4 linked regions of the Homo sapiens genome follow. The protein of the gene in region 2 interacts with the protein of the main gene of each other region in a pairwise test. Each region holds a gene or a part of one and is shown on either strand. Other genes may lie near its edges.

What was found.
Region 1: the proteins of GABBR1 (region 2) and BDKRB1 interact in a two-hybrid assay, tested with the Homo sapiens proteins (one large-scale study listed by BioGRID and IntAct).
Region 3: the proteins of GABBR1 (region 2) and CCR8 interact in a two-hybrid assay, tested with the Homo sapiens proteins (one large-scale study listed by BioGRID and IntAct).
Region 4: the proteins of GABBR1 (region 2) and CHFR interact in a two-hybrid assay, tested with the Homo sapiens proteins (one large-scale study listed by IntAct).

Annotation. Positions count from the first base shown.
Region 1 is NC_000014.9:96,262,237-96,269,238, reverse strand, and holds the end of BDKRB1 (B1 bradykinin receptor), read right to left. Parts: exon of another isoform or gene 6,628-7,002; intron 6,588-6,627; 5' UTR 6,469-6,587; intron 5,567-6,468; 5' UTR 5,557-5,566; coding exon 4,495-5,556; 3' UTR 4,476-4,494; downstream 1-4,475. UniProt on the Homo sapiens protein: This is a receptor for bradykinin. Could be a factor in chronic pain and inflammation.
Region 2 is NC_000006.12:29,628,327-29,636,464, reverse strand, and holds the start of GABBR1 (gamma-aminobutyric acid type B receptor subunit 1 isoform a precursor), read left to right. Parts: upstream 1-3,281; 5' UTR 3,282-3,615; intron 3,616-3,682; exon of another isoform or gene 3,683-3,768; coding exon of another isoform or gene 3,769-3,783; intron 3,784-4,079; coding exon 4,080-4,164; intron 4,165-4,863; exon of another isoform or gene 4,864-4,865; coding exon 4,866-5,069; intron 5,070-5,075; exon of another isoform or gene 5,076-5,821; coding exon 5,822-6,007; intron 6,008-7,357; coding exon 7,358-7,378; intron 7,379-8,138.
Region 3 is NC_000003.12:39,324,311-39,332,508, forward strand, and holds the start of CCR8 (C-C chemokine receptor type 8), read left to right. Parts: upstream 1-5,398; 5' UTR 5,399-5,519; intron 5,520-8,007; 5' UTR 8,008-8,021; coding exon 8,022-8,198.
Region 4 is NC_000012.12:132,857,675-132,865,149, forward strand, and holds part of CHFR (E3 ubiquitin-protein ligase CHFR), read right to left. Parts: intron 4,752-7,475; coding exon of another isoform or gene 4,659-4,751; intron 3,961-4,658; coding exon 3,793-3,960; intron 1,554-3,792; coding exon 1,394-1,553; intron 1-1,393. UniProt on the Homo sapiens protein: E3 ubiquitin-protein ligase that functions in the antephase checkpoint by actively delaying passage into mitosis in response to microtubule poisons.

The sequences.
Region 1 (7,002 bases), on a different chromosome or scaffold from region 2:
GCTCCTCATCAAATTTGTGACTCATCTCCGGAGAGCAAGAGCCTGCCTGTGGCCATTGCAACATCAGGGAGTTTCCCCGAGGCTGGGATTTGGAGGGCCTTAGTGCCACCCACTCCCCATGATGGATTGGGGTGATGATGGGGCAGGGTGGGGGCAGTTTTCTTACCTTCCCACTGCAGAGAGCAGTGAAGGCCACATATGGCCCCTGATCACGCGGTTCTGGAGCCCAGGACAGACCCAGAGCTGGGAACGGATTGGAGTGAAACCTTGTTCTCTCTTTCTACTTGGCCCTTCTCAGGGAGAGAGTGGAAGCCCACATGGGTGCTGGAGCTGGGGATGCTGGAAGACTATTTGCTAATTCCTCCCTCCACCCCAGGTGTTAGCACCACAGGTGTGGCCTGGGCCTGGCCCCATATGGAACACGCCAGGTGAACCTATCAACCAGATCCATGGGAACTCAGATATATTACCTTTTCCCACAGCATCGATCCTTTTAGTCAAGGCAGAAATTTCTCCCTCTGTAAATGAATAACTGGCCTTCCCCACAGAAGGGCAACAGAATTCTACTGTACGGGTTTGCCAGTTTCTCTCCCACTGTGGGGCCATTTGCTGGGCTTCGGTAAACGTTACTTATGTGCGTCTCATAAATCAGGTGTCTGAGTTCTCAGGCTGTGGCTGCAGTCTACCATTGAATTACATCCCGTGAGCAATGTTGTCCGATTTCACCGGCCAGCACGTTCTTCTCGAGTGTGGGATTGGTTTTTGCAAGACCTCGAAAGGATTTTGATAAGCCACCTGCTTAAGGCCGGCTGAAAAAGAAGAAAGGAGGGCATATGTGGGTCAGCTCACTCGGAATAGAAGAGGAATCAGGTATTATTTTCCCTTTCCCACTCTCTATTCCTGCCTGTTCCTGCCTACTTTTGCCACTTTGCCACAGAGCCTTTGCCCAATGAATTCCTGCCTGGGGGCTTGGAAATCACATTGGTGTTGGAGTCAGATGAGTTGGGTGAATCCAGCCTCTGCAGTCTGAGCAGGCACTGCCTTCCTTAGCCTCCTCTTCCTCACCTAGAAAGTGGACATCCTGAAACAGACCTCACAAGGGAGTCAGGCGATTAAATGAGATGACTGAGCCTACTCCTGTGTGTGGCTGCTGAGTCGCACTGGGTGTGCTTGGGCAGGTCTTACTGCTCTCTGTTTCCTAGACTGTATGTGAAGGGATGGTCTGGATGAGGGGTTGCAAACTTAACCTCCCATAGCTTCCATGCGTGTGAACCTGATGGGAGGGCGCCCTGTTCACGGGGCCTCTGCTACACAGCACCAAAGAATTGGAGCCCCGGGGGGACCCTGGAAGGTCAACTCCAAGGGCCCAGGGATGTTCCTCTCTTTTGTTCACTGCCATATTTTCAGTGCCCAAAACAGTGTCTGACAAAGTAGATGCTTAATAAATATCTGCTGAATGAATGAAATTGAATCAGTGTTGCTGGATGTTCCAAACTTTCAAAAGAAACTGGAAAGCTGGCTCCCAATGGGGAGTTTCAGTACTGGTAACCAACTCAAGAGCCTGGGGGCTTGGAGTTTTAAAAAATACCATGTGGTTCAAATTAAACACATGTGCAGGCTGGATCTTGCCTGTTGGCTCAGCTCCAGGCCTTCTGACGACACTCTGCTCTCCAGGAAACCTGCAGGGGCTGGAACACTGATCACAGGGTTATCACTGATGAGGTCCTGGTGGCCCAGCCGCTGCCAGCCTCTCAAACCCTGTCTCCAGGCTCCAAGAACATGGCATTCTTTCCATTCCTGGAATGAATGAGTCTTTGCTGCTATTCTGTGAGGACCAGCCCTTCCCGTGCAGCTGTGGGGACTGCCATTCTCCCCATTCCCCCAAGTGTCTTGGAGTCCAGTCACTACACCCTCTCCCCCACTCCATGGAAACTGACCTTGGAATGGCCTCCTGGCCCACGGACTCTCTCCTCCCCAGGGCCTGACAATGTCCCGCCTGCCTGTGAGGGCCCAGGTAGGGCCCACCCACCACCTGACCTCTCCATTCTCTATGTTGTCTCCAACCTCCTTCTTCTTCCCTCTACTTCAGCCACCTGGTGCCAGGGATACACTTGGTCCTTGTCATCTCCTGAGATGGCTCTGCCTCTGGAATGTTCTACTCAAACATTCCTGCTCTGTGGCTATGCCTTCCTCTCTCTCTTTTAATGAGACAGGGTCTCACTCTGTCAGCCAGGCTGGAATGCAGTGGCACAATCTTGGCTCACTGCTTGTAGCCCTGACCTCCTGGGCTCAGATGATCCTCTTGCCTCAGCCTCCCAAGTAGCTGGGACTACAGGTGCGCACTACCACGCCTGGATAATTTTTGTATTTTTTGTAGAGACGGGGTCTTGCTATGTTGCCCAGGCTGGTCTCAAACTCCCGGGCTCAAGCCATCCACCTGTCTCAGCCTCCCAAAGTGCTGGGATTACAGATTGCACCCTTTGTGGAAACCAGGCTCACGGCTGATTCCCTTCACAGTGTACAGAAGATCACGCCTGGCTCTTCTTCTGTTTCTTGCTGTCACCCAGGTTCTCTCACTATATCCATCCTTTAACACACTGATCTCACTTCACTTCCTTCTCTCCCTGTGCTCGTTTCTTCCCTCTCCATCATTCCCCCGAGTCTGACCAGGATCCCCAACTCCCATGACGTATGGCCGTCTATCTGGCTAAACCCTACTCCAGAGCAATCCTTTCCTGGGTCTGTCGAGCATTATCAGAGTAAATTCACACAACACAGCCACGCTTTCCAGCTTCAATGGGGCCCTCAAAGCTGCCTGGAGCCCACCATCCTTCCTGGGTGAACTGTCTTTGCCAGCTGACCATGGTGGACCCAGCCTGTCCATTCTCCTCCAGCCCCAATTCTCTCCATGACCCGCCTCCTCCTCTGCCATCCTTCAACCTCTCCCTCCTAACCTGTAACCCCACCTGCCTCTGGGCCTACTTTGTTCCTTCTGTCTGGAACACTCCTTTCCCCCATTTTGCTTGGCCAGCTTCTCATTTTTTGGGATTCAGTTTATGTGTCTCTTCCTCCAGGAACCCCTCTCTAACCATCCCTCCCAGCCACCCAGACTGGAGCCCTGCTCTGGTTCTCACGGCACCCCTCACCCTGATGGTGGCGGGCATCCTGCTCTATGACAATCCCTTAATTATTGTCCTGGTTGCTGTGAGCCCCTGGAGGGTAGAGACACCGTTAGGCTCACCGTTGGGTCTCTCATAGCAAGACCCGCACCAATGCATTACACGTTCAATAAGAGCATGCACAAGCATTCTTTTGTGAGCAGCTCACCCTTTCCCGCCTCTGCCAGCCCTTCCTCCCTGTCTCCACGTATCCAGATTGCACCCTTTGTGGAAACCAGGCTCACGGCTGACTCCCTTCACAGCGTCTTCTCTGCTAACCTGAGAGGGAACCCATCCCCTTTCTCGCTGAAGGCGCAAGATGCTGGATCCGTGGTGTGTTCATGCAATTTCTCATTTCATTTTTTATATTATAATATTTAGATGTATGTAAGTTCCTTGAATATAGAACTTCTAGCTATACCATCCCTGTATTCCTGGCAGTTAGCCTAGAAAGCTTTGAATAGACAAATGGAAGTGTAATAAGAGAGGCCATTACCCGATACTTGTTATTTGTTTCCTGCTGCTGCTATGACAAATTACCAGAAACTCGGTGGCTTAAAATACAAATGGGGCCAGGCGCAGTGGCCACGCCTATAATCCTAGCACTATGGGAGACCAAAGTGGAGGATCACTTGAGCCCTTGAGTTTGAGACCAGCCTAGGCAATGCAGGAAGACACCATCTCTACAAAAAATAGAAAAGTTAGCCAGGCATGGTGGTGCACACCTGTAGTCTCAGCTACAGGAGGCTGAGGTGGGAGGATCCCTTGAGTCTGGGAAGTTGAGGCTGCAGTGAGCCGTGATTGTGCCAGTGCACTCCAGCCTGGGTGACAGAGCGAGACCCCATCTCAAAAAAGCAAAGCAAAGCAAAGCAAACAAAGCAAAACAAAACACAAATGTATCCTCTAACAGTTCTGGAGGCCAGAAATCCTAAATCTGTTTCCCTGGGCTGAAGACAGGGAGTTGGCAGGACCCATTCCTTCTGGAGGCTCCAGGGGAGAAGCCATTTCCTTGCCCTTTACAGCCTCTAGAGGGTGCCTGCAATCCTTGGCTCGTAGTGGCCGTCCTGAATTCCTCTGGCCTCTGCTTCCATAGTCACATCTCCTGACTCTGAGCCTCCTGCCTCCCTCCTATAAGGACCCTTGTGATTATATAGGGCCCACTTGGATAATTCAGGATCATCTCCCCATCTCAAGACCCTTAATTTGGTAACATTCATCAAGTCCAGGGATTAGGTACCCCCCAATCTACGGGAGTAATCATTTAGCCTATCACAATAGCATTTATTATGTCACAAAGAATTGATAAGAAAGCCAAGCTTCTTGGTTCAATGCTGTTTTAATTCCGCCAGAAAAGTTGGAAGATTTCTTTCCTATGGGATGAAGATATTGGAGCAAGACTTTTAGGGGTGCATTGTTTATAAAGTTCCCAGACCTTGGTCCTGAAGAGCCGGCCCACAAAGACATAAATTACTGGATTCAGGGAGCTGTTAGTGAAGGCAAAGAAGTTGGCCAATTGCAGGCCCAGGTCAATGAAGTCCTCCCAAAAGCAGCCTCGGACTGCTTGCACCTGGAATAAGAATTCCAGGAAGGCAAAGAAGTGGTAAGGGGCCCAGCAGACCAGGAAGGCAACCACGAGCGTGAGGATCAGCGCTGTGGTCTTGCTATCCTTGCGGCCCCCGCACCTTGTCCTGCTGACCTCCTCCCGCGTTCGCAGGGAGGCCAGGATGTGGTAGTTGAAGAAGACGATCGCAGCCAGTGGTAGGAGGAAACCCAGAATATTTAACTCCACAATCCTTGCAAAGTGCCAGGCCTCATGGGGGAGGAGCAGGATGCAGGCGGTGATGTTCAGATCTGGGACGGCTTGGATGGATCGCAGCAGGAATGTGGGGATGCTCAAGAGGCCCCCCACAACCCAGATGAGCACGCAGGTGACCCGGGCCTGCCTCCGCCGCTGCTGCCTCCGGCTGGCCATAGGGTGCACCAGCACGCGGTAGCGGTCCTGGCTGATGGCCACCACCAGGAAGATGCTGATGAACAAATTGGCCTTGATGACCCCGTTGATGACACGGCAGAGGAGGGCTCCGAAAGGCCAGTTAAACTGGTTCCAGATATTCTCTGCCCAGAAGGGCAAGCCCAAGACAAACACCAGATCAGAGGCTGCCAGGTTGGCCAGGTAGATTTCTGCCACGTTCAGTTGCCGCCGGGGCAGGAGGAAGACCAACAGGACAAAAAGGTTCCCTAGGAGGCCGAAGAAACAGATGGAGATGATAAATGTTGGCAGCACTCTGTGCAGCAGGTCCCAGGCTTCTGGAGCATTGTCACAGGCCGTAGCATTTTGAGGGAAGAGCTGGCTCTGGTTGGAGGATTGGAGCTCTAGAGGGGGCCAGGATGATGCCATGCACAGTGACCTGAAATGAACAGAAGGTAGAATAAAACAGGAAGTGGCAGACTACAGCCTATGAGCCAAACCAACCTGTCACCTGTTTTTGGACAATAAAGTTTTATTGGCACAGAGCCACACCCATTCCTGGACGTATTATCTACAGCTGTGTTCATGCTACAAGGGGGAGTCGAGCGCTTGTAACAGAGACTGTCTGGCTTGCAAAGCTGAAGATATTTACCATCTGTTCCTGAGGGGGAAAAGTTTGCTGACCTCTGGTTTAAGGGATGGTGCCTGAGTCCAAATCCCGGTACAATCACTCAGTGTGAGCTACTTAGAACCATTGACTTTTACTTTCCTTTTTAAACATTGGAGAGAATCGTGTCTCTCTTGTGGGATCACGGGAGGGCTGTTGTCAGGATCTACAGGGTGCTTAGCTCCGTGCCTTGCATAGAGGAAAGACTTTGGAAGGTAGTGATTAGTCTTAGTAACAACTGTACCATTATTATTATTACTATTAGGGTTTTAACAGGCATTTAATGAGCCTCTACCTCTTGCCAGCCCCTTGCCAGGCACTGGAGATATGCAGGACAGAGCAGCCCCAGCCTCATGGGGCTGCAGACATGGAGGCAGAGGTCATGGCTTGAGATAGAGCTGAGGGAAGCCCGGGAACAGCAAAGGAAGCTGACCTGTTGGGGCTGGGACCAGTGTGGTGGCCGGGGTGGGGACAGTGCTAGGAGGTTCCTCTTACAGGCTTGAAAAACATGAGTATTGGCCGGGTGTGGTGGTTCACACCTGTAATCTCAGTACTTTGGGAGGCCAAGGCAGATGGATCAGATGAACCCAGGAGTTCAAGACCAGCCTGGGCAACATGGTGAAATCCTGTCTTTACAAAAAATACAAAAATTAGCTGGGCATGGTGGTGCATACCTGTGGTCCCAGCAACTCGAGAGGCTGAGGTGGGAGAATCGTTTAAGCCTGGAAGGTCGAGGCTGCAGCGAGCTATGATTGTGCCACTGCACTTCAGTCTGGGCCGACGGACTGAGACCCTGTCTCAACAACAACAACAACAACAAAAAAAAAAAAAAAAAAAAGGAGAGAGAGAGAGAGAAAAGAAAAAAGAGAAAGGAAAGCATGAGTAATAAATAAGGATAACAACTAACATCTGTTAGATGGTATTAATGGTCTGTGTTCCAGGCGCCATTCTAAGTGTTTCACATTTAAGTATTTTCTCATTTAATCTTCCTGGCAGCCATTCAAGGTAGGGGCCATTGTCATCTCCAGTTGGCCAATTAGAAAATTGAGTGCTGAGACCCGGAGTCGCCTGTCTGAGGTCACACAGCTGGTCAGTAGGGCCTGGATTCAAACCCAGGCAGTCTGATTCAAGAGCCTGATTGAGATCCTGTGCTTCTGTCTGCTCTCTTCTGCTGCACCTGTCCCCACGCGATGAATGACAAAGCCAGG
Region 2 (8,138 bases):
CCCCTTGTCCACTGCTGCCGCCTCCTTCTTCTGCCGCTCCTGGTGCTGCTTGTGTGCTCGTTTGGAGCGGACCTGGTACCTCTTTTGTGAAGCGGCAGCTGAGGAGACTCCGGCGCTCGCCATGGCCGAAGAAAAGCCCAAGGAAGGAGTCAAGACTGAGAACAACGATCATATTAATTTGAAGGTGGCGGGGCAGGATGGTTCTGTGGTGCAGTTTAAGATTAAGAGGCATACACCACTTAGTAAACTAATGAAAGCCTATTGTGAACGACAGGGATTGTCAATGAGGCAGATCAGATTCCGATTCGACGGGCAACCAATGAAACAGACACACCTGCACAGTTGGAAATGGAGGATGAAGATACAATTGATGTGTTCCAACAGCAGACGGGAGGTGTCTACTGAAAAGGGAACCTGCTTCTTTACTCCAGAACTCTGTTCTTTAAAGACCAAGATTACATTCTCAATTAGAAAACTGCAATTTGCTTCCACCACATCCTGACTACTACCGTATAGTTTTCTCTATTCTTTCATTTCCCCCTTCCCCATTCCTTTACTGTACATAAAGTAACTGGTATATGTGCACAAGCATATTACTTTTTTTTTTTAAAACTAAACAGCCAATGGTATGTTTTGATTGACATCAAGTGGAGACGGGGCGGAAAAATACTGATTCTGTGAAAATACCCCCTTTCTCCATTAGTGGCATGCTCATTCAGCTCTTATCTTTATATTCCAGTAAGTTATTTTGCTCTCACTGTTTTAACAACAACAACAAAAAAACAACAACATAAAAATCCTTGCATACCTTGTTCAATTGGAGAATTTTAATGTTTTTCATTTATCATTGTAAAACCAAGGACAATTTTATAACTTTTTTGTACTTAGCTGTTACATGCAGAGCAATCTGTCTTTAAGTAGGGATAAATTACTCTAAAACAAAAAAGAATCCTAGATAGTTTTCCCTTCAAGTCAAGCGTCTTGTTGTTTAAATAAACTTCTTGTTTAAAAAAAAAAAAAGTAAAAAAGAAAAGTTATGCAACAATTAATGGCCCAGAGGCAATCCTTGTTAACATTTTGATGCATCTTTTAGCTGTTTTTTTTTGTTTTTTTTTTTTGACTGAGTTTGACTCTTGTCACCCAGGCTGAAGTGCAATGGCATGGCATGATCTTGGCTCACTGCAACCTCCGCCTCCCGGGTTCAAGTGATTCTCCTGCCTCAGCCTCCTGAGTAGCTAGGATTACGGGCATGCACCACCATGCCTGGCTAATTTTGTATTTTTAGTAGAGTTGGGGCTTCTCCACGCTGGTCAGGCTGGTCTCGAACTCCCAACCTCAGGTGATAAGGGAAGGGGCACTATTGACATTTATGGTTGGGGCAGAGGTGTAAGATATTCTTCAAAGCACTACCTACATGTTGAAGAATTGTTCCTCACCCAGATTCTCAAAAGTCCCCCAGGACATTCACGTAGTGAAAACCTGTGTTTAATTATCTGAGCCTATAACTTAATACAGTTTTAAAATTTTTTTTTAAATATACAGTGAACTTTCTAGGAATGCAATTATAGTTGTGTGTAAAATTAGGGAAAATTAACTTTGCTACCAAGAGTTGTTCAACATTTTGTTAAATCACTTCATTGATGGCAACATGCTGGAGGTAGTTGAGTCACCAACTCAGCACCTGGATCAGCCTGTGTTGGTAGCAGTTTCATCCCCGTGGTTCTGTGAATAGGTGGAAGCATCTGCTTACTCCATCAGGACTTCTAGGGTAGTCGGGCCTTGGCACTCACACATTAAAATACTGTTTATGTTATTTTATTGCAAGTTACTTTTCTTTCATTTCCCCTTTACGTTACAGAAAGGGAAGCATTTTGCTTTCTGTTTAAAGTTGTGTATGTAGGTAGGTTATATCATCTATGACTTTCTCTCCCTCCTTCCCTTTCTTTTTGTTTGAGATGGAGTCTTGCTCTGTCACCCAGGCTGGAGTGCAGTGGTGCGATCTTGGCTCACTGCAACCTCTGCCTCCCGGGTTCAAGCGATTCTGGTGTCTCAGCTGGGATTACAGGCGCACACCATCACACCACGCTAATTTTTCTATTTTTAGTAGAGATGGGGTTTCGCCATGCTGGCCAGGCCAGGCTGGTCTCAAACTCCTGAGCTCAAGTGATCAGTCCGCCTCGGCCTCCCAAAGTTCTGGGATTTCAGGCGTGAGCCTCATCTATGAATCTCAATTTAGGACAGTAAAAGTGTCATTACAAAATATTTATTGTAAAAAAGGGTTGGAGGTTGAGAATCTCAATTCTAGTCAGTCTCTCAGTGTTTGGTTTCTTCCTACCATTTTTCCCCCTAGGACCAGCCAGAAAGCAGCTTTTTTTTTGTCCCCCCCAACAAGGAGCCCACTGTTTCCTCTCCCAGCCCAAACTCAGGCCTACGAACAACAACAGCACAACACACACACACACACACACACACACACACACACACACACACACACACACCCCTCCACTTCAAGGTATAGCCAAGAGCTTCTGGAGCCGTCAAAAAGGTCTGTACCTGCTGTCTTTAGAGCTTCCAGTTTGCCCTTGGTCAAGAAATACTGTTTGCTAGGCTCTGCTGGAGTACATCAGGTAATACTGGCTTCTAAACCACCCTGAGGTTCTTTTCTCTTGTCCTTTTACTCCCTTCGTACTTCAATTTCTCTCCTTGATGTCCCCCTCCCTGTTTTGTTTTTTGCCTCCAATCCGTTCTGCGCGTTCCCTGCAGAGCAGGCGAGTAGCAATGCTGCTGGACCATGGAGCTGCTCTAGTCTCCCAGAAATCTCTTCTACACCCAACCCTTCTTGCGCTTAGGTGGTCCTCAGTCCCCCTCCCCCACCTCCTTCTGACCCAGGCTTCTTTCTCGCCCTCCGGTCGCAGTTCTCCTGGGCATCTGCCTCTGCCTCTCTCCTCTCACCCGGATCTAGGGCTGCCTTCTCTTTGTGCAGCCGTCTTTCTCCACCTTCATCCCAGACTCCCTGTCTCAGCGCCAGCTCCTCTGCCTTTGGCTCGGGTTCCCTCTCCCCCACCCCAGCTTCCAGTTGTTTGGCCCGCAGGTCCCTCGGCAGTGACCGGCGCCCCCCGACGAGTGCGTGTGCACCAGGGCACCTCCCTCTCCCCCACCTCTCAGCCCCGCGCCTCTCCACCGCCCGCCCCACCGCGCTGTGGGCGGTCCAGGGCGGGGCTGGGATCCGGGGCGGCTCCCGGGGCTCGGGTTGTGGGAGGCGCCCTCTCCCCGGTCTTCCCCTCTCTTCCCCCCGCCCTGCCTTCCCTTGCACCCTCCTTCTTCCCTCCGCCCGGGAGCTCTCCCTGGTCCCCGGCGCCGCCTCCTTCCCTCCCGGCTCCCCGCTCCCCGCTCCCGTGGCTGCCGCCGCCCCGGGGAAGAAGAGACAGGGGTGGGGTTTGGGGGAAGCGAGAGAGGAGGGGAGAGACCCTGGCCAGGCTGGAGCCTGGATTCGAGGGGAGGAGGGACGGGAGGAGGAGAAAGGTGGAGGAGAAGGGAGGGGGGAGCGGGGAGGAGCGGCCGGGCCTGGGGCCTTGAGGCCCGGGGAGAGCCGGGGAGCCGGGCCCGCGCGCCGAGGTAAGAGCCAGGGCCCCGGGTTAGCAGGGCTCGGAGAGGGGGCGCGCGGCGTGGTGGGGGAGGGGGCAGTGGGCGCAGGGCCCAGCTGGGGGAAGCGGGGCTGGGGGAGAGGAGGAACCGCGGGGATGGAATCGGGGAGCGCTGAGGCGGCCGATGCCGGGAGCGTGGGTAAGCCAGGCTTCTGCGAGCCGCGGGGGCCGGGGGAGAGGAGGTGGTGAGAGGTGGAGTCCCGGGAGGGTTGGGGGCCGAGGGAGGCAGGAGGAGGGTGGGGACAGGCTTTCTCTCCTCCTCTCCCCCCACCCCGCGCGGGGCTCCGCCCCCGCCTCCTCCGCGGGGCGCTCTCTTGGTCCCCAGGCTGAGCCCGGTCGGAGCCTGCGAGGCAACCGGCAAGAGGTCGAGTAGTCTCCGGGTGCGGGCCGCGCCGGCGGGGCTCGGTCCAGTCCTCATGGCCGCCTCTCACTTAGATGTTGCTGCTGCTGCTACTGGCGCCACTCTTCCTCCGCCCCCCGGGCGCGGGCGGGGCGCAGACCCCCAACGCCACCTCAGAAGGTGCATCCTTCTTCGACGACCTCCGGCCCTCCTTCGCTCCACTTCCCTTTCCCTGCATCTCCTCATTTCTGGTCCTCATCACTATCCCATCAGTCCCACATATCATCCCGGTCTGGCAACCCCTTCTGCTCGGCCCGACTTTACTACTGCTGACCTCCTTCTGTCACCCCACGTTACTATCCAGCACCTCTTTTCTCTGCCCACATTGCTACACTATACCACCTTCCTGTGCATTTTCTCCGCCTCAATCCCCTTTCCCAGCCCCACATTACTACCTCAATTACTCCCTTTTCTTGGTCCCACTTTGCTGTCCAGATGATCTTATTAGCCTCCCTTTATCCTCCTATCCTAATTCAACTCGAATATCCTCATTTAGCCTTTTTTTTTAAAGAAAAGCTCCACCCACATATCATACCCTTCATGATTTCTTAATTACTTTTCTTTCTTACCTCCACCCAGCACCCTTCCCTCCCCACTTGTGGGTTCTCTCATCAGCTTTAACCCTGGCCCTTTACTCTCTGTCCTTTAGCCAGGGGATCTGTACCTGTCCCCACTCCCACCCTCTAGTGCCCCATCCCTCTTCCTCTGTCCCCAGCCTGCCCACAGACCACGCCCTACTCTCCCCTTCCTCCCACTGGGGAGCCTGCCTTTTCCTCTTTCCCACCATTCCTCTCTGTATGCCTCCCCGACTCACCCCTTAGGTTGCCAGATCATACACCCGCCCTGGGAAGGGGGCATCAGGTACCGGGGCCTGACTCGGGACCAGGTGAAGGCTATCAACTTCCTGCCAGTGGACTATGAGATTGAGTATGTGTGCCGGGGGGAGCGCGAGGTGGTGGGGCCCAAGGTCCGCAAGTGCCTGGCCAACGGCTCCTGGACAGATATGGACACACCCAGCCGCTGTGGTGAGTAGCCTCGGAAGCCCCTCCCCTCTTCAAGACTATTCCTTTTCCTGCCGCAAACTTAGCATTACTGCTTGCAAGTCAGCACTTTAAATCCAGTATACCAAAATTCACAAATACATTTATTGAATGACTACTACATAAGAGCAATTTTGCTCTGTGCGGTTGGAGGTAGTAGAGCTAGCAGCCTGCACAGTTCATTTCATCCTCCCTTCATTAGGCCACTGATCATTGGCCTATAACATTGATAATTCATCTTGTCAGTTATTCTCTTTGAGGATCATTAGTGGCAGATGATGACAAAAAAATTCTAAAATGATTTCATCACATTTTTGAATACCTCTGTCACCAACCCAGAGACCATATGCCCAAGAAACAAAAGCCAGTTTAATATTAATAGAAGCCAACTATAATAAGAAAAGCAAATCTGATTGTGCATCCAAAGTTATATACATCTACATATTTCAAAGCCAGAGAACCGCCCACTGTAGCTGACTTTGAAGAGATCCCATTTTGTGTGCTTATAGCCCCATCTTGGGTTCCTAAAATGGTAATTTTTTTTTTCTTTTGGGAATGTGTGGATGCTTGCACAGGTAAGGGAGGATTGGAAGATAGGTAGGCAAATCCTTTTCACATGTGATTTTCTTTAGAGCAGGATGCTTGTGGACCCAAACCTGCACCTGAGTCCCCTGCTCTTTAAAGGGAAAGAGCCTTCTTCAACTCGCCTCTCTTCTTATTTTCCTATCTCTCCACAGTCCGAATCTGCTCCAAGTCTTATTTGACCCTGGAAAATGGGAAGGTTTTCCTGACGGGTGGGGACCTCCCAGCTCTGGACGGAGCCCGGGTGGATTTCCGGTGTGACCCCGACTTCCATCTGGTGGGCAGCTCCCGGAGCATCTGTAGTCAGGGCCAGTGGAGCACCCCCAAGCCCCACTGCCAGGGTGAGGGGAACAGCTGCCTGCATGCAGCTGATGAGGACGCTTGTGTGAGGATGGGAGTGGGGTGGGAATGGATAATGGGAAAGAATGGAGAGCTATAAAAATGTGGGGGAGGACACTGGAAAGGGGAGATGAAAGTCCCTTTTTCCTCCATCACCTGCCTCAAACTTCCTCTTGCAGTCCCCGGTATCCTCTGTAGGTTGGGGGCTTCCTTCCTTTACCTTTTAAAAAAATCTTCCTGCTCCCGATTCTTAGACCTCACGTTTTCTCTTTTCCTTTATGAATCTCACCTCTCTCACCTTCTTCAGGTTTAAATACTCCAATTTTCCCTTTCTCTAAACTTAGAAATTTCCATGCATCACCCTCTTCTAGAATTCATCCCTCACCATTCCTTATATAATTGATTTATTGTAAAGACTCAGAAATAAATCAAACATTCTACTAAGAAAAATTGAGAAGGGGAGCTCTGGGGGTGGAAACATATTAGGGTAAAAGACTTAAAATTGGAGGCAGCATTATCAGAAGATGAAGAACAACTCAGGGATGGGGTGGGAAGAAGACAGGTCCTTTTCTGTACTTCCTAGACAACCTCCATTATTCCCTAAGGGAATCAGTGTTGTGTCTGTCTACTTTTTTTTTTTTTTTTTTGCCACGTAATTTTACAAACTCTCCCTTTTCTAGGCACCCGAACTCTCTGCCATCTTCTCTCCTGGGATGCAGTCATCCCATTTGTATGCCTCATACTTCCTCTACCCTGGTAGATTCTTTCAAGATCCTTGGGCTTTACTTTCCTCACATAACTCAGTTATTCTGCTTCTAGTTTACCATTTTATTCTGGAAATTGAGAGTCCCATCCAGGGGTGGACTTATGACACTACTGAAACTTAGACTTCAAGGTTCCTCACCTACAGGGCCCTCTTCCTGTGCTCTAATAATATAGAGGGCTCGATGGATATGTGTTCATATGGTAACAGGCTTTTGTAAAAATTGCAGAAATAAGATTTTAACAGCAATTGCTTAAAGCCAATTGTATGTGTAATTTTTTTTCTTAAAGACTCCCAATTTTGTAATATTCAGGCACCACAGAACCAAGATCTGCCCCAAACTTAGCTATTGGCATTCCCGTCTCAAATTCTGTTGTCCTATGAAAAATCGAAGAAGAAAATAAGTCCTGACCCCCTTACCCCCAGACCCACCTTGTTCTTATCCCCAGGCACCCTCCCCTCAGAAACGCAGGCTTCTGCTCTCCCCGGTCTTCAGCATGGACAGGTGTGGGAGGGGGCTGGGGATCAGGCCAGGGAAGCTGGGCGCCAGTGGTAACTCTTCTCTGATCCCCGTCTTTCCTGCTGCCAGTGAATCGAACGCCACACTCAGGTGAGATGAGAAACCCTTACCGCGCGCACTGCAATGCCCTCCCCTTCACTCTGCACCCTCCACCCCCCTGAAATTCTGCCCTTAGGCTACGGGGCGTCGTCCTTTCGCACCTTCCCCAACCCACCCCAGTTTGCGGCCACCCCCTTCCCTCCCTACCTGTTTCCTGCCTCCAGTCCCGGTTTTCCACGAGGCTGCGGTCTCTCCTTGTCCCTGCTTGGCTACACTTCCCTGGGCTCCACCTCCTCCCAGACTGAGCCTCGCCGGTGTCAGGCAGAGCCCAGCAGAGGGCGGCAGGGTGCTGGGAGACCCTGAGCTCCCACCACGTTTTCCCCTGTGGGGTTCCTTGCGACCTTCGCTGGAACCTTTTCCAGCCTGCTGCCTCCTAGGATTTCACCTAATGGACTTTCTCAGCCTGTCCCACCCATCCCAACCCTGGCCAGGCCTCTCGCGCTCTTCCCCACATCTTTTCCTTCCGTGTACCCCTTCCCTCGTCTTTTCTCAATTCCATGTCCTGTCTCCCTTTCTTAGGCTTCTGTCTACCCAGCCCCAGGCTCCCTTCCACGACCCCACCACTCCCTCAAACCAGCCTCCCTTCCGTACCCAACTCGTTCCCTCCAAAACCGTTTCCTCTCCCCCACATCCTCAGTGCTTCACTGTATCGACTCATACTCCCACTTCAGACCTCAGGCGCCAGCCCCGTTTCTCTCCCGTCCCACTCGCATCCTTCCCTTCCTACCCTGGTTCCTCCGTGCTTCAGCCT
Region 3 (8,198 bases), on a different chromosome or scaffold from region 2:
ACTGCGCCCAACCCTCATGAAAGCTTTATTCCCATTTTACACACGAAGATCCTAATGCCTTGTCAAAATGTGACCAGCCACACTAACATCACCTGGGAGCTTGTTAGACGTGCAGAATCTCAAGGCTCAGAACTGCTAAGTCATAATCTGCTGCTTAACAGGAGTCCCAGGTGATTTGGGTACACATTAAAGTAGCACTGGACTAAAACTCAGAAAGGTTTAGTGGCTTTCCCAGGTTTCCAGAGCAATGTGGTAGCCCAGTTGGGACAAGGCTCTGGAGACTCCAAGAAATGCTTTTCTTAATGCTTCACTCCCGGCTGGAAGGCACACCCATTCTTTAAGGCCAGCTCCCTGATCTCCTCCACATTCTTACCCTGAAGACCCAGGAAGAATCAAGAGTCCCTTTTGCTCCTGAAGCCCTTCATGTATTCCTCTGTCACAGTAATGAATGCATTTGGCCTTGTAACAAGATGGAGAAGAAAAGAGGGAATAAAACAGTATTTCACAAACCCCTCTTCTATGCAGAGGAACAGGGTAAATATTATCAGGAGTGAAGAAGAGAAGTATCTTGACATTCTACGTTTACCCTTAACTTGTGAGCATTTTTCCTGGGCAGAGGCGAACTCTTCCTAGTTTCCCCTTAAGAGTTTTTCATGTGGCCCAGGTACTGAACATAAGATAGACTTGGAGAGGCCATTGGTTCTGGAGGACTCACACTACTTTGGCCTCATATTTTTTTTTTCTCCCCAACTTCATAATGATAAACTCAGGCTTCCTTTGTGTACCACTTTTGGCAATGCAGGTGCTTTTTGCAAGTCAATGGGAGAGAATTACAAGTGTGGCTTATTAAATTGATCTCCAATTTAATCAATAAATCATTCACAACATGAAAATGTGTTTGCTTTGAATTAGTGCTTGATAGCAATTTTCTATTTCCTAAAAACTTGTAATTGAAATGACAGCGTGCCTTTATTAAAGAGAATTTTAAGAATAAAAAGAAATAACCTAATATAAGATTGTTTTAATTTCTGCCTATTTCATTCTGGATGTACCCACACTCATCCATGCTTCGCAAAGAGACAGTCATAGTATACATGCCACCTTAATCATAAAGATTTCTCTGGGTTTCTACATGGTTTTCACAGTGATACTTTTTCCTTTCATTATTCATCATTCTTCAGAGAACCATCACCTCCTGGGACTCCTGTGATGAAAGTGCCATGATTGCTAAGCTCCTTAAGTGAGGAAATCATAAATTTCATTTTTTTATCCCTTCTAATGGCAAAAGCAGTTCTGAGAATATGCTAGGCACTTCAGTGCTTGTAGCCTTGGAAAAAGGTGGTGAGCATGTTTGTAGAAGATAAATTCTGGGAATAAAGCACCACCAAAAGGCTAAGAGATTTAGCCGGGCATGGTGGCATGCACCTGTAGTCCCAGCCAATCTGGAGGCTGAGGCAGGAGAGTCTCTTGAACCTGGGAGGTGGAGGCTGCAGTGAGTTGAGATCATGCTGCTACAGTCCAGCCTGGGCCACAGAGGAAGACTCTGTCTCAAAAAAAAAAAAAAAAAGAAAGGCCGGGCACAGTGGTTCATGCCTGTAATCCCAGCACTTTGGGAGGCTGAGGCGGGTGGATCACCTGAGGTCATGAGTTAGAGACCAGCCTGGCCAACATGGTAAAACCCCGTTTCTACTAAAAATACCAAAAATTAGCCAGGTGTAGTGGCGGGCGCCTATAATCCCAGCTACTAGGGAGGCTGAGACAGGAGAATCACTTGAACCCAGGAGGCAGAGGTTGCAGTGAGCTAAGATTGCACCATTGTACTCCAGCCTGGGCAACAAGAGCAAAACTCCGTCTCAAACAAAACAAAACAAACCACTAAGAGATCTAATCAATTATTCTGGCACACAAGGTAATATGAATTTCCTGAAAATGCAACTAAAAATACGTTATTAACCACATTTCTCCATATTCAACCCTTCAAATCAAAATTATGATGATACCTTTTTTTGTATTCTGACAATTGTCATGATTACTCTTATGAAGGAAATAAATAGTAGTAAAAAAGAAAATCTGTTTCTTGTTACTCTTTTTTGTAATCCATATGGGAAATTAAATTATATAGACAGCAAAACTGGCTTTACTATTAATAACACACGAGCTTTTCTTAAACTCTGGCTTTGTCTAACACTTTTCGTTAAGCAAATGCATTTTTACCCTACAAATCACTGAGGGACTGACATATAGTTGAAAACTATAGAAAATACAGAAAGACTTCCTCTAGTCTTATCCACAACTCTTCATAATGTTATTGCACGAGAATTTTGAATGTGGTGCAGTAAGAAAAGCACCCTCAGCTGTGCCTCGGAAGACCTGAGTTCTGGCTCTGGCTCTACCACCAAATTACTGTGTGATTTTGGGTGAGCCACTTTGCCTCTCTGGACTTAAATATTACTACTTTGAAAGAAAGAGAGGGAGAGAGACATCAGCTGTATGACCTGAGGCCATTTTCTGCCCTAATACTCTATGACAAATATCTGTGATAGTAGTAATTTCTACATTTACACTTAGGGTTTATTTAAATACAGTTTTTTCTTTCTCTTTATTTTGGAGGAAAGGAGGTCAAATATGCTGCTAGTCTCTTTTTCCCTCTGAAGTGAAATACAGTCTTTTGAACCTTTGGAGGGACCCAGTAGAATTGAATTTAGATGGGATGTCCCCAATGGATCTGATCCAGCATTTTCAGAACCCATTGAATGTGCAGCAGAAGGTAGACTTGGAGAGGCCATTGGCTCTGGAGGGGTCACACTACTTTGGTTTTGTAGTTTGGTTTCTGCTGCCTTCCCATAGAATGCCTGAATCCCTGATGTAGGCCCAAAGGTGAGGAACCAAGGCTTGTCAGTTAACTATGTCACAGTTTGTCTGTCTTCCGAGTCAGGATGTTGTGGGTTGAATAATGGTCAACCAAAGAGATGAAGTCTTAATTCCTAGAACTTGTAAATGTTACTTTACTTGGGAGAAGAGCTTCTGCAGATGTGATTAAGTCAAGGATTTTGAGATGGGGAGATTATCATGGATTACCTGGACGGATCCTAAATCCAATCATGAGTGTTCTCATAAATCAGAGGTGGGTGAGATCTGATGCAGACACACAGTGGAGAAGGAGATGTGAAGATGGTGGAGATTAAAGTGATGTGGCCACAAGCCCCAGGTTTGCTGGGGCAGCCACCAAGAGCCAGAAGTGGCAAGGAACAATTCGCCCTTCAAGCACCCAGAAGGAGGCAGCCCTGCTGGATTATAGCCATCTGGCCTCCAGAACTGGGGGAGAATACACGTCTGCTGCTCTAAGCCACTAAGTTGGTGGTAATTTGTTACAGCAGCCACAGGAAACAAATACACAGGTGACAGCAGGCAAGTGTCCAGTCCTGCAGGGGCCCACACCAGCCCTCAGATCTGGCTCAGGAAACACAAAAAGAGGAGCATCCTTCCATTCTGGCTGTTCAGTCCTTTCCTCCAACTCTTCACCAGACTCCACATCTCCACCTTGCCTCATTCTCTCTGTTCAACTATTTATTAAGAAGTTGCTGTGCACTAAGCACTGTGCCAAGTATGGAGGAGCAGCTGATAAAAGAATCCTCAGGAACTGAAGATAGAGACTGTTTGGGGTTTAGATCAGCTTGCACTAGAAACTGGGCTTGGGGGGAATTCCACCTTAGTCCCTCAGGCCTTGCTTAACTGGGCTTTGGAGGGGAAGGTGGCTTCCCCCACACCTGCCCTCACTGATGAGGCGGTCCCATAGTTCCCACCATCATGACATGGACTAGTAATACCTGAGGGCCCTGAGTTCTCCATCGGCTCACCATTGATCTTTGCTTATCACATACAAAACTCTCATAAAGGAACTGGGTTTTCCCCAAACTGCGTCAAAACATGAATGATGGTGAGGGGAATTTGCCGAGGTATGAATTCAGGTACCAGCAGATATTTCCTTTTATTTTTTCTTTAGAGACAGGTCAGTGGCTCAATCATAGCTCACCTCAAACTGCTGGACTCAAGTGATCCTCCCACTTTAGCTTCCCAAGTAGCTGGGACTACAAGTGCATGCCACCATGCCTGGCTAATTTTATTTAAAAAATTTGTACAGATGATGCATTAGTCCGTTGTCACACTGCTATAAAGAAAGACCAAGATTGGATAATTTATAAAGGAAAGAGGTTAAATTGACTCACAGTTCTGCATTGCTGGGGAGGCCTCAAGAAACTTATAATCATGGTGGAAGGCAAAGGAGAAGCAGGCACATTTTTCACAGGTCGGCAGGATGGAGTGAGTGCAAGCAGGGAAAATGCCAGGTGTTTATAAAACCATCAGATCAGATCTCTTGAGACTCACTCACTATCATGAGAACAGCATGGGGGAAACTGCCCCCATGATCCAATTAACTCCACCTGGTCCCGCCCTTGACACATGGGGATTATGAGGATTATAATTCAAGATGAGATTTGGGTAGGGACACAGAGCCAAACCGTATGAGATGGGGTCTTGCTATGTTGACCAGTCTGGTCTTGAACTCCTAGGCTCAAGCAATCCTCCTGCCTCAGCCTCCCAAAATGCTGGAATTACAGATGTGAGCCACCGTACCTGGCATCCAGCAGATATTTCTACTGCATTTCTCCAGGAATGAGTGGGTTGGAGATGAGGAGATTCTGGAACTTCTGTCATTTCCTCCCAACAATTCTGGGACTCATGTTCACTCTCCTGGGATAGGGGAAACTGACTTAAAGTGATTTTCAAATGGCATTCCTGTTGAAAGAGTTAATATATGTACATGCATACAACATACACACACATTTGTGTATGCTACATACCATGGAGGAAAGCCAGTCCTGGTATAAATTGTATAACTTCAAAATAATAATGGAATTATGATTTCATTTTAATACTGATTTCAATTAAAAATTTTAATAGACTATTTTTTAGAGGTTTTAAGTTTACAGAAAATCTAGGTAGACAACACAGAAAATTCCCATTAACCCCTGTATTAGTCTGCTAGGACTTCCATAACAAAATACTACAGGCTGAGTAGCTTAAACAACAGAAATTTGTTTTCCCACAGTTCTGGAGGCTAGAAGACCAAGGTGCCCACAAGTCTGGTTTCTGGTGATGCCTATTTACCTTACTTGCAGATGGCTGCCTTCTCCCTGTGTCCTCACATGGCCTTTCCTCTGAGCACCTGGAGGCAAGAGAGTGAGCTCTGGTGTGTATTCCTCTACCTAGGAGACACCAGTCCTATTGAATTAGGGCCTCAGCCTTACGATCTCATTTAACCCTCATTGCCTCCCTTTAGGTGACTAGGTGTGAGGGTGGAGCCCTCAAGAGACTGCCTTCTCTCCATCTGCTGTTTGTAGTGGGAGGATACCTCCAGAGAGGCTGCTGCTCATTGAGCTGCACTCACATGAGGATACAGACTTTGTGAAGAAGGAATTGGCAACACTGAAACCTCCAGAACAAAGGCTGTCACTAAGGTATGTGCTACAAGCATCCTTGGGGAAGAAGGGCATGAGTAGGCAGGGGCATTTTTATATCTTTAGAGGATAGGCAAAGGGAAGACCAAAATTTCAGAGGTCTAGCACAAGAAGTAAAATTTTTTTTTAAATCTTTGCATTTCCTCAGAGCCCACAAACATGCATGTGTCTTAGTGGCTGCCCATGCTCTGGCTGAGGAGAGCAAACCGTGCCATATTCTCTGCAGGCCTTTAGGAGAGAGTGAAAACTCCTACAAGAGTGGGAAGGTAGATAAGAGAAGATCCTTTATAATACCAGGCATCTGGGAAGATCTGTCCTTGTGCTGGGTACAGGGCTTCTATCAGGTAACTGAAGGACACCTGGGTGCTGTTCTTAAGGAAAGAAGCCAGCGAGCAAACTTTCATATGACTAAAGAAGTTGCTGGTGGGTGCCTGTAGTCCCAGCTACTCAAGAGCCTGGGGCAGAAGGATTGCTTGCGCCCAGAAGTCAGGGCTTTGTGTGAGATCACACCTGCGTATAACTACTGTACTCCAGCTTGGGCAACATAGTGAGACCCTGTCTCTAAAAAAATAAATAAATTGCTTGCTTGCTTGCTTGTGCTTTCAAATCATAGAAAAGTAGCAGAGTGGAGAGGGGTGTCTGAATGTAAAGCAAACAAATGCCTTGGAAAAATATGTCTGGATTGAAATTGCATTGAATGTATATATCAATTTGAGAAGAATTGTCAAGTTTTATAATTTTTATGTAACTGAATTGCATTTTTATTAGTTTTATTCCTAGTAATGCTAGTAATTTTCATTGCTAGTATAATTGGGATCATTTTTCTATTGCATTTATAAAGTTATTTTTTTTCTGGTGCTTAGGAAAGCAATTAAAAGAATAAACTGATGAATATCATGCAGATATATCTCTAAAACAATAAGCAAAATACAAAGGGAAAAACAATATATCATTTATGTAAGTTAAAACAATATATCATTTATGTAAGTTAAAACACACAAAAATATATATTGTTTATGGATATATATAAATATGTAAAAGTACAGGGGGAAATTGTTTGGAATGATACATACCAAATTGGTTTTAGTTGTTGTTTCTGTTATGGGGATAAGTTGTGTAGTTAAAGGGAACATTAGCTTCATCTCTATTGCATCAGAAATAAAAAAAGAAAGAGGGATGGAAGGAAGAGAGGGAATGAGGGAGGGAGAAAAGAAGGGAGAAAAAAAGAAGGAAGGAAGGAAAAAAAAATAACCCAAAGCATTGTGAGAATATGTTAGCAGCTGCTAATTCTAGGTGATGGAACTATGGGTATTTACATTTTCTTTGTAAGTTTTGGCTTTTCTCATCTCAGCTGACTCCCTTTGGTTTACATAACAAAATACAATAGACTGAGTGGCTTAAACAACAGAAAGTGTTGTTTAACATACTTCTAAAGGCTGGAAGTCCAAGACCAAGCTGCCAATGCAGTTGATTTCTGGTGAGGCTTCTCTACCTGGCTTGCTGATTTCAGCCTTCTTGCTGTGTCCTCACATGGTCTTTACTCCATGCACAAGGGGAGCAAAATTTCTTGTGTCTCTTTCTCTTCTGTTAAGGACACTAGTTCTATCAGATTAGGGCCCTGCCTTTTTTGGTTTTGTTTCTGTTTTCTTTTTTTTGAGACAGAGTCTCACTCTGTCACCCAGGCTGGAGTACAGTGGCTTGATCTCGAGTCATTGCAACCCCTGCTTCCTGGGTTCAAGAAATTGTCGTGCCTCAGCCTCCCGAGGTAGCTTGGATTACAGGCATGTGGCACCATGCCTGGCTAATTTTTGTAATTTTAGTAGAGACGGGGTTTTGCACTGTTGGCCAGGCTTGTCTCGAACTCCTGGCCTCAAGCAATCCGCCTACCTTGGCCTCCCAAAGTGCTGGGATTACAGGTGTGAGTCACTGTGAGAGCCAGGGCCCTGCCTTTATAACCTCATTTAACCTTTTTTTTTTTTTTTTAATTTTAATTTTTTTTTTTTTTTTTGAGACAGAATCTCACTCTGTCGCCCAGGATGGAGTGCAGTGGTGTGATCTCGGCTCACAGCAACCTCCACCTCTTCGGTTCAAGTGATTCTTCTGCCTCAGCCTCCTGAGTAGCTAGGATTACAGGCATGCACCCGCCATGCCCGGCTAATTTTTGTATTTTTAGTAGAGACGGGGTTTCGCCATGTTGGCAAGGCTGGTCTTGAACCCCTGACCTCAGGTGATCTGCCCACCTTGGCCTCCCAAAGTGCTAGGATTACAGGCATGAGCCACAGCTCCCGGTCTATCATTTAACCTTAATTACATCTTTAAAGGCCCAAATAGTCTCACCCACTCCAAATAGTCACACCCACACCGGAGGTTGAGCACTTCAACACATGAATTTGGGGAGGACACAGTTCAGTCCATAACATCCCCCTAATTTTTAAAAAATAAAAATGTTTTTAAGGAGTGAATGTCTTTTATGTGTCTCTGTGACCAGGTCCCGCTGCCTTGATGGATTATACACTTGACCTCAGTGTGACAACAGTGACCGACTACTACTACCCTGATATCTTCTCAAGCCCCTGTGATGCGGAACTTATTCAGACAAATGGCAAGTTGCTCCTTGCTGTCTTTTATTGCCTCCTGTTTGTATTCAGTCTTCTGGGAAACAGCCTGGTCATCCTGGTC
Region 4 (7,475 bases), on a different chromosome or scaffold from region 2:
AACCTAAAAACCCTTTAAGTCAGTCTTGGTTAATGAAAAGAAATCAGAGGCCACACGGCCTCTGTGTTTTCAGGAAAGACAGAGGCGAGTAGATTATGACTTCAGGAACACAAACAACAGAGACAGCAAGTGTTTCTGGCCCAGAAGTTGGAAGGTTGTCACTCTTGAGTTCCCGCGGAAAAGCAAGGAGGCCCTTCCTCAGCGGCTCCTACGTTCATTCTATGCGAAATACACCTTCCCAGATAAGGAGCATTTAAAATGTGCAGAGTTCCTTTCATCTGTTTGCAGAGTTCACGGGGTCACACACGACCCACACACTCAAAACTTGTGGGGTCTACAGCCTCCGGCTCTGGGTTCCAGGTTTCCTCCTTGTTGGTGCCACGAGTAGAATGAAAGTGGTAGCCATGCGGGGTGGCTCACGTCTGTAATCCCAACACTTTGGGAGGCCAAGGTGGGCAGATTACCTGAGTGCAGGAGTTCGAGACCAGCCTGGCTAATATGGTGAAACTCCCGTCTCTACTAAAAATACAAAAAAATTAGCCAGATGTGGTGACGCATGCCTGTAGTCCCAGCTACTTGGGAGGCTGAGGCAGGAGAATCACTTGAACCTGGGAGGTGGAGGTTGCAGTGAGCCAAGATCACACCACTACACTCCAGCCTGGGTGACAGAGCGAGACTCTAACTCCAAAAAACAAAAACAAAAACAAAAAACCACCCCGGGCTACATGGCGAAACCGTCTCTACAAAAAACACAAAAATCAGCAGGGTGGCTGGGAGTAGTGGCTCACGCCTATAATCCCAGCACTTTAGGAGGCAAACGTGGGCAGATCACCTGAAGTCAGGAGTTCAAGACTAGCCTGGCCAACATGGTGAAACCCTGTCTCTACTAAAAAATACAAAAAAATTAGCCGGGCATGGTGGCACACGCCTGCAGTCCCAGCTGCTCAGGAAGCTGAGGTAGGAGAATCGTCTGAACCCGGGAGGCTGAGGTTGTAGTGAGCCAAGACTGTGCCACTGCACTCCAGCCTGGTGACAGAGCGAGACTCCATCTAAAAAAAAAAAAAAAAAAAAAAAAAAAAAGGAATAAAAAATATTTAGAACATTAAAAAAAAAAAAAAAGTCAGCCAGGCATAGTGGTGTGCACCTGTAGTCCCAGCAACTCAGAAGGCTGAGGTCAGAGAACCGCTCAATCCTGGGAGGGAGAGGTTGCAGTGGGCTGAGAAAGCTCCACCCACTCCACCCACTCCACCCACTTATCTGGGTGACAGAGTAACCTCAGCAGATGCCAGGCCAAACAGGACCTGCAGGCTTGTCTCATGCCCAGCCCTGCCCCACACGGGACGAAGAACCTGCAGTGCCATGTTCCGTGAGCCAAGGGTGAACACGGTCGCACCTCACGCAGTCGTGCAGCAGGTCCTGGCAGATGATGCATGTCAGCGTCTCCTCCATCTTGTCTGGCTTCCCAGCCGCTGCTCTGACGTCCTCGTGGACGGTTTGGGCATTTCTACGCGGTTGTGCGACCAACAACTGCCCGTTCAGGTCAAGGTCCCCATCTACAGGAGAAAGGGATGTGTTCTGTCGTAACCAAGAAGGAAATACACGCAGGTTCAGGTCAAGGTCCCCGTCCACAGGAGAAAGGGATGTGTTCTAACTGTCGTAACCGAGAAGGAAATACATGCAGTCTTTTTTTTTTCGAGACAGAGTCTCGCTCTGTCGCCCAGGCTGGAGTGCAGTGGCGCGATCTCGGCTCACTGCAAGCTCCGCCTCCCGGGTTCATGCCATTCTCCTTCCTCAGCCTCCTGAGTAGCTGGGACTACAGGTGCCCACCACCACGCCCGGCTAATTTTGTGTATTTTTAGTAGAGACAGGGTTTCACCGTGTTAGCCAGGATGGTCTCAATCTCCTGACCTCGTGATCCACCCGCCTCGGCCTCCCAAAGTACTAGGGTAACAGGTGTGAGCTACCGCGCCCCACCCTCTTCTGGTGTTTTTATTTTTCTATAATGCTCAGATGTTGGTAATCAATTAATTTTTATTTTTAATTAAAGAAACTGTACACAATTTAAAAAGCCAAGTATTTAGAAGAAGCCAGGTGCAATGGCTCACAACTGTAATCCCAGCACTTTGGGAGGCTGAGGTGGGCAGATCGCTTGAGCCCAGGAGTTCAAGACCAGTCTGGGCAATATAATGAAACCCCATCTCTAAAAAAATGGGAAAAAAAATTAGCCAGCTATGGTAGCGTGCACCTGTGGTCTCAGCTACTCGGAAGGCTGAGGTGGGAGGACAGTCTGAGCCCAGGAGGTGGAGGCTGCAGTGAGCCAAGACTGCACCACGGCGCTCTGGCCTAGGTGACAAAGCAAGATCCTGTCTCTTAAAAAAATGTATACATAATATATTTAGAAGAAAACAAAGGCAGTCACCCTCCGTCTCAGCCGCTCCTCACCCAATTTCCCTCCTCGGAGGAAAACTATTTTCATGTCTTTGAGCTGTTTCTTCTGGTATTTACCTCTGTGTTTCTAAGTTATCATGGTACATTTGATTTATCAATTTTAGACATCATTCCTGACATCTATTAAGGTAGAGAAAAACTCTGTCCTGAGACACCCCTGCCAACATTACATTAACAGATTACATTAGTTCATGATACTGTATTTGTATTATTATGCTTATGCAAGTATTCACTGCTGAGCCAAGTAGTTTACTAGATTAAGTTGTGTGACTTACACAATTTTTCATGTTTGCTAGAATTAAAATTTCCTCATTCCTGTGCTTATTTTTCCTGTGTAACTGTTGCTGACTCTTTCCACACCTTCCCCACACCGATCAACCCCACGTGTCAGATAACCTAATTTCTTTCCCTGGGGACCCCTCCTAGAACCTTCCTGTCACAGTGCCCCAGTGGCTGGCTGCTCTCTGGACTGCTATACAGCAATGCTTCTACCATAACATTCCCAAATGTTTTCTAATAATCTTAACTTTGGCTTTCAAAGTGCAGACTTCTCCCTAAATCATCTTCAATGTGAAGATTTAAGCTACATTTTTAGAAATTATTGTCCTACCAGGACAGAGGGCTTTCTTTTTGATTTTCTTTTTTTTGAGATGGAGTTTTGTTCTTGTTGCCCCGGCTGCAGTGCAATGGCACAGTCTTGGCTCACTGCAACCTCCACCTGCCGGGTTCAAGCAATTCTCCTGCCTCAGCCTTCCAAGTAGCTGGGATTACAGGCATGCACCACCACACCCAGCTAATTTTTGCATTTTTAGTAGAGACGGAGTTTCACCATGTTGGCCAGGCTGGTCTTGAACTCCTGACCTCAGATGATCCGTCCACCTTGGCCTCCCAAAGTGCTGAGATTATAGGCGGGAGCCACGGTGTCAGGCTTGATTTTTATTTTTAGAGATAAAGTCTTGCTCTGTCGCCCAGGCTGGTCTCGAACGCCTGACCTCAAGTGATTCTCCTGCCTTGGCCTCCCAGTGTTAGGATTACGGATATGAACTACTGCACCTGGCCAGGAAGGAGGATTTTGAGATTAATTCTGCAATTCAGAATGCACTATTTCCAGACCAAGAGAACAGCCTGTAGCAAATCACAGTTCTATCTGGATTATGCAAACCGCAAAAAAACAGGCCCAGGTTTTCTGAATGAAAATGCCGGAGGTGTTACAGGCATCAACCTGAGGCAGGGTCCACATGCCCCTGCAGGAAGCAATGCCCCACAGCACGGAGCATGGCAGCGGCCCCCGCATGCCCCAGGAGCACACGAGAGGACTGAGGACACACACAACCAGACACTAACCTCCTCTCATTTTCTTCTTCACGGGCTCCAAATCCTCCTGATCCTGGGGTTCCAACGACGAAAAGGACGCAGTCTTTCTGTCTGGGAGAGCTGAGGCAAAGCTGGAGACTTCATCACTTGCCACAGAGGGACCACTTCCTTTAGGGGAGATGCCACCACCCCCAGACCCTGTGAGAGGAATCAAACAAGATAGGTGCTGATCCATCCAGCTCAGGAGAGAACCATGCCTGTAAGGTGTCACTGACTGGAGCCCAGTGCAGCTGGCAGCCTGAGATGTCGTAGTTTAGGAATGACAAGTGGCTTACGAGGAGTGTGTGCTCACTCAACTCACATCTTAACTCTATTTGTGCCTATCTCTACGTGGGGTGGAGCTGGGGGCAAGGAGCCCATTTGCAGAGAAACAAATGCGGAGATGTCTGTGACCAGGCTTAGCCCTCGAGCACCGAGTCTAACGCAGGGCAAACCCACATACCCGTGGTCATATGATACACACTGTGTCATAAACTTGTTACAACAGAGCTTTGGGCCGGGTGCGGTGGCTCACACCCGTAATCCCAGCACGTTGGGAGGCCGAAGCAAGTGGATCACCTGAGGTCAGGAGGTCGAGACCAGCCTGGCCAACATGGTGAAACCCCATCTCTACTAAAAATACAAAAAAATTAGACAGGCGTGGTGGCGAGTGCATGTAGTCCCAGCTACTCAAGAGGCTGAGGCAGAAAAATTGCTTGAACCCGGGAGGCGGAGGTTGCAGTGAGCCAAGATCGTGCCACTGCACTCCAGCCTGGGCAACAAGAGCGAAACTCCCTCTGGGGAAAAAAAAATAAAAATAAAAAATAGAGGTCTGAGGCTGGGCATGGGGCTCACACCTGTAATCACAATACTTTGGGAGGCCAAGGTGGGAGGATCACTTGATCCCAGGAGTTTTAGACCAGCCTGGGCAACACAGCAAGGCACCATCTCTACAAAAAATACAAAAAAGAAAAAAAAATTAACTAGGCGTGACAGTACGAGCATATGGTCCCAGCTACTCAGGAGGCTGAGGTGAGTGGATCACTTGAGCCCGGGAGTTCGAGGCTACAGTGAGCCATGACCACATCACTCTCCCAACCTGCACAACAGAGCAAGACCTCATTTTTTTTTTTGAGACGGACTCTTGCTCTGTTGCCCAGGCTGGAGTGCAGTGGCTCACTGCAAGCTCCGCCTCCTGGGTTGACGCCATTCTCCTGCCTCAGCCTCCCAAGTAGCTGGGACTACAGGCACCCGCCACCATACCCAGCTAATTTTTTTGTATTTTTAGTAGAGACAGGGTTTCACCGTGTTAGCCAGGATGGTCTCGATCTCCTGACCTCATGATCCACCTGCCTCAGCCTCCCAAAGTGCTGGGATTAAAGGCATGAGCCACTGTGCCTGGCCAAGACCTCATTTCTTTTGTTTTCTTTTTCTTTTTTGAGACAGAGTCTCACTCTGTCACCCAGGCTGGAGTGCAGTGGCGTGATCTTGGCTCACTGCAAGCTCTGCCTCCCTGGTTCACGCCATTCTCCTGCCTCAGCCTCCTGAGTAGCTGGGACTACAGGTGCCCGCCACCACGCCCGGCTAATTTTTTGTATTTTTAGTAGAGACAGGGTTTCACCGTGTTAGCCAGGATGGTCTCGATCTCCTGACCTCGTGATCCACCCACCTCGGCCTCCCAAAGTGCTGGGATTACAGGCGTGAGCCACCGCGCCCGGCCTGACCTCATTTCTTAAAAAAAAAAAAAAAATGCCAGGCGCGGTGGCTCATGCCTGTAATCCCAGAACTTCAGGAGGCCAAGGTGGGTGGATCATCTGAGGTCAGGAGTTCGAGACCAGCCTGACCAACACAGTGAAACCCCATTTCTACTAAAAATACAAAATTGGCCGGGTGTGGTGGCACATGCCTGTAACCCAGCTACTTGGGAGGCTGAGGCAGGAGAACTGCTTGAACCCAGGAGGCGGAGTTGCAGCGAACGAAGTTCGCGCCATTGCACTCCAGCCTGGGCAGTAAGATCAAAATTCCGTCTCAAAAAAACAAAGTAAAACAAAACAAACAAACAAAAAAAAACAGAAGTCTGTGTAAAGCACAGATGCTCCAGTGGAGGGATGCATAGCTTCCAACGGGTGGAGATGGTGCTGCGTGTGAACTATTTTACAAGAGGTGTGATAACGGGAAGGATACAGCACAGTGACTTGTAGGGAGAGCGCTATCTCCACGAGCAAGAAGCCAGAGTCATAACGACAGGAATGACCTTGGCAGAAAAACAGGCAGACTTTCTAATCACCTCTATCTTTTTTTTGAGACAGGGTCTCACTCTTCACCCAGGCTGGAATGCAGTGGCGAGATCTTCATTCACTGCAACCTCTGCCTCCTGGGCTAAAGCGATCCTTCCACCTCTGCCTCCTGAGTATCTGGGACTACAGGTGTGCACCACCATGCCCAGCTAAATTGTTTTTTGTATTTTTGGTAGAGACAGGGTCTTGCCATTTTACCCAGGCTGGTCTCAAACTCTTGAGCCCAAACAATCCACCCACCTCGGCCTCCCCAAGTGCTGGAATTACAGGTGTGAATAAGGATTACAGGTGTGAATAAGGATTACAGGTGTGAATAACCTATATCTTAATAAAGACTTAGTTTATCATATTACAGCATAATACATATCTAGCTTACAGTATTCAAATGTAAGTGTTATTATTTGAAAAAAAAAAACACAAGAAACTGGCTTACAGCAGCTGAAAGAAAACAGAATAGTTTTGGGGACAAACCACCTCATATACGAACAGAAGGAAAGAGACAGCCTGTGGGCCGGCCCCCAGCCGGCACCCACTCACGCCATCATCTCCAGCGCCCCGTGCTCAGCCAACGTGGAGAGGAGCACCATCTTACCACTTACAGAATGTACCTGGCACACTGCCTCACATTTAGTAGCTGCTCAATAAGCAGTAACTATACTTATTTTGTTAGTATGCATACACTTAGGCATACAGATAGAAGAATTTTTATTTTTTATTATTTTTATTTTCTTTTTGAGACAGAGTCTTGTGCTGTCACCCAGGCTGGAGTGCAGTGGCAGGATATTGGCTCACTGCAACCTCCACCTCCTGGGTTCAAGAGATTCTCATGCCTCAGCCTCCCGAGTAGCTGGGATTACAGGCGCCCGCAACCACACTTGGCTAATTTTTATATTTTTAGTAGAGATGGGGTTTTGCCATGTTGGCCAGGCTGGTCTTGAACTCCCGACCTCAGGCGATCCAACCACCCGGCCTCCCAAAGTGCTGGGATTACAGGCGTAAGCCACCACACCCGGCCAGAAGAATTTTTTTTTTAATTACATAAGTAATATATAAATACGCTGCCCTTTTTAAGTAGAACATTATCAAAAAATTATGCAAACCGTATTACCCAGACTACACACTGTGCTATGCACATTGGTGGATAGGAACAGGAAACAATTTTACTGGTGAAGTTTGTTTTCTTTACAGGCCAGAGCTATTTTGTGTTTGATTTCTGAAGAGGGTCTAGTAGCCACAAAATGCACATGGGACTTGGCCCTAGGGACATGGTATAGTTCATCTAGGCAGACAGTTCAAAATCTGCAGTCAATCCAAAATACTAGTAACCCCGCGTCCTGTCTGTGCTTGCTGCACTTGAAACGCTGTGGGCCACGCTGG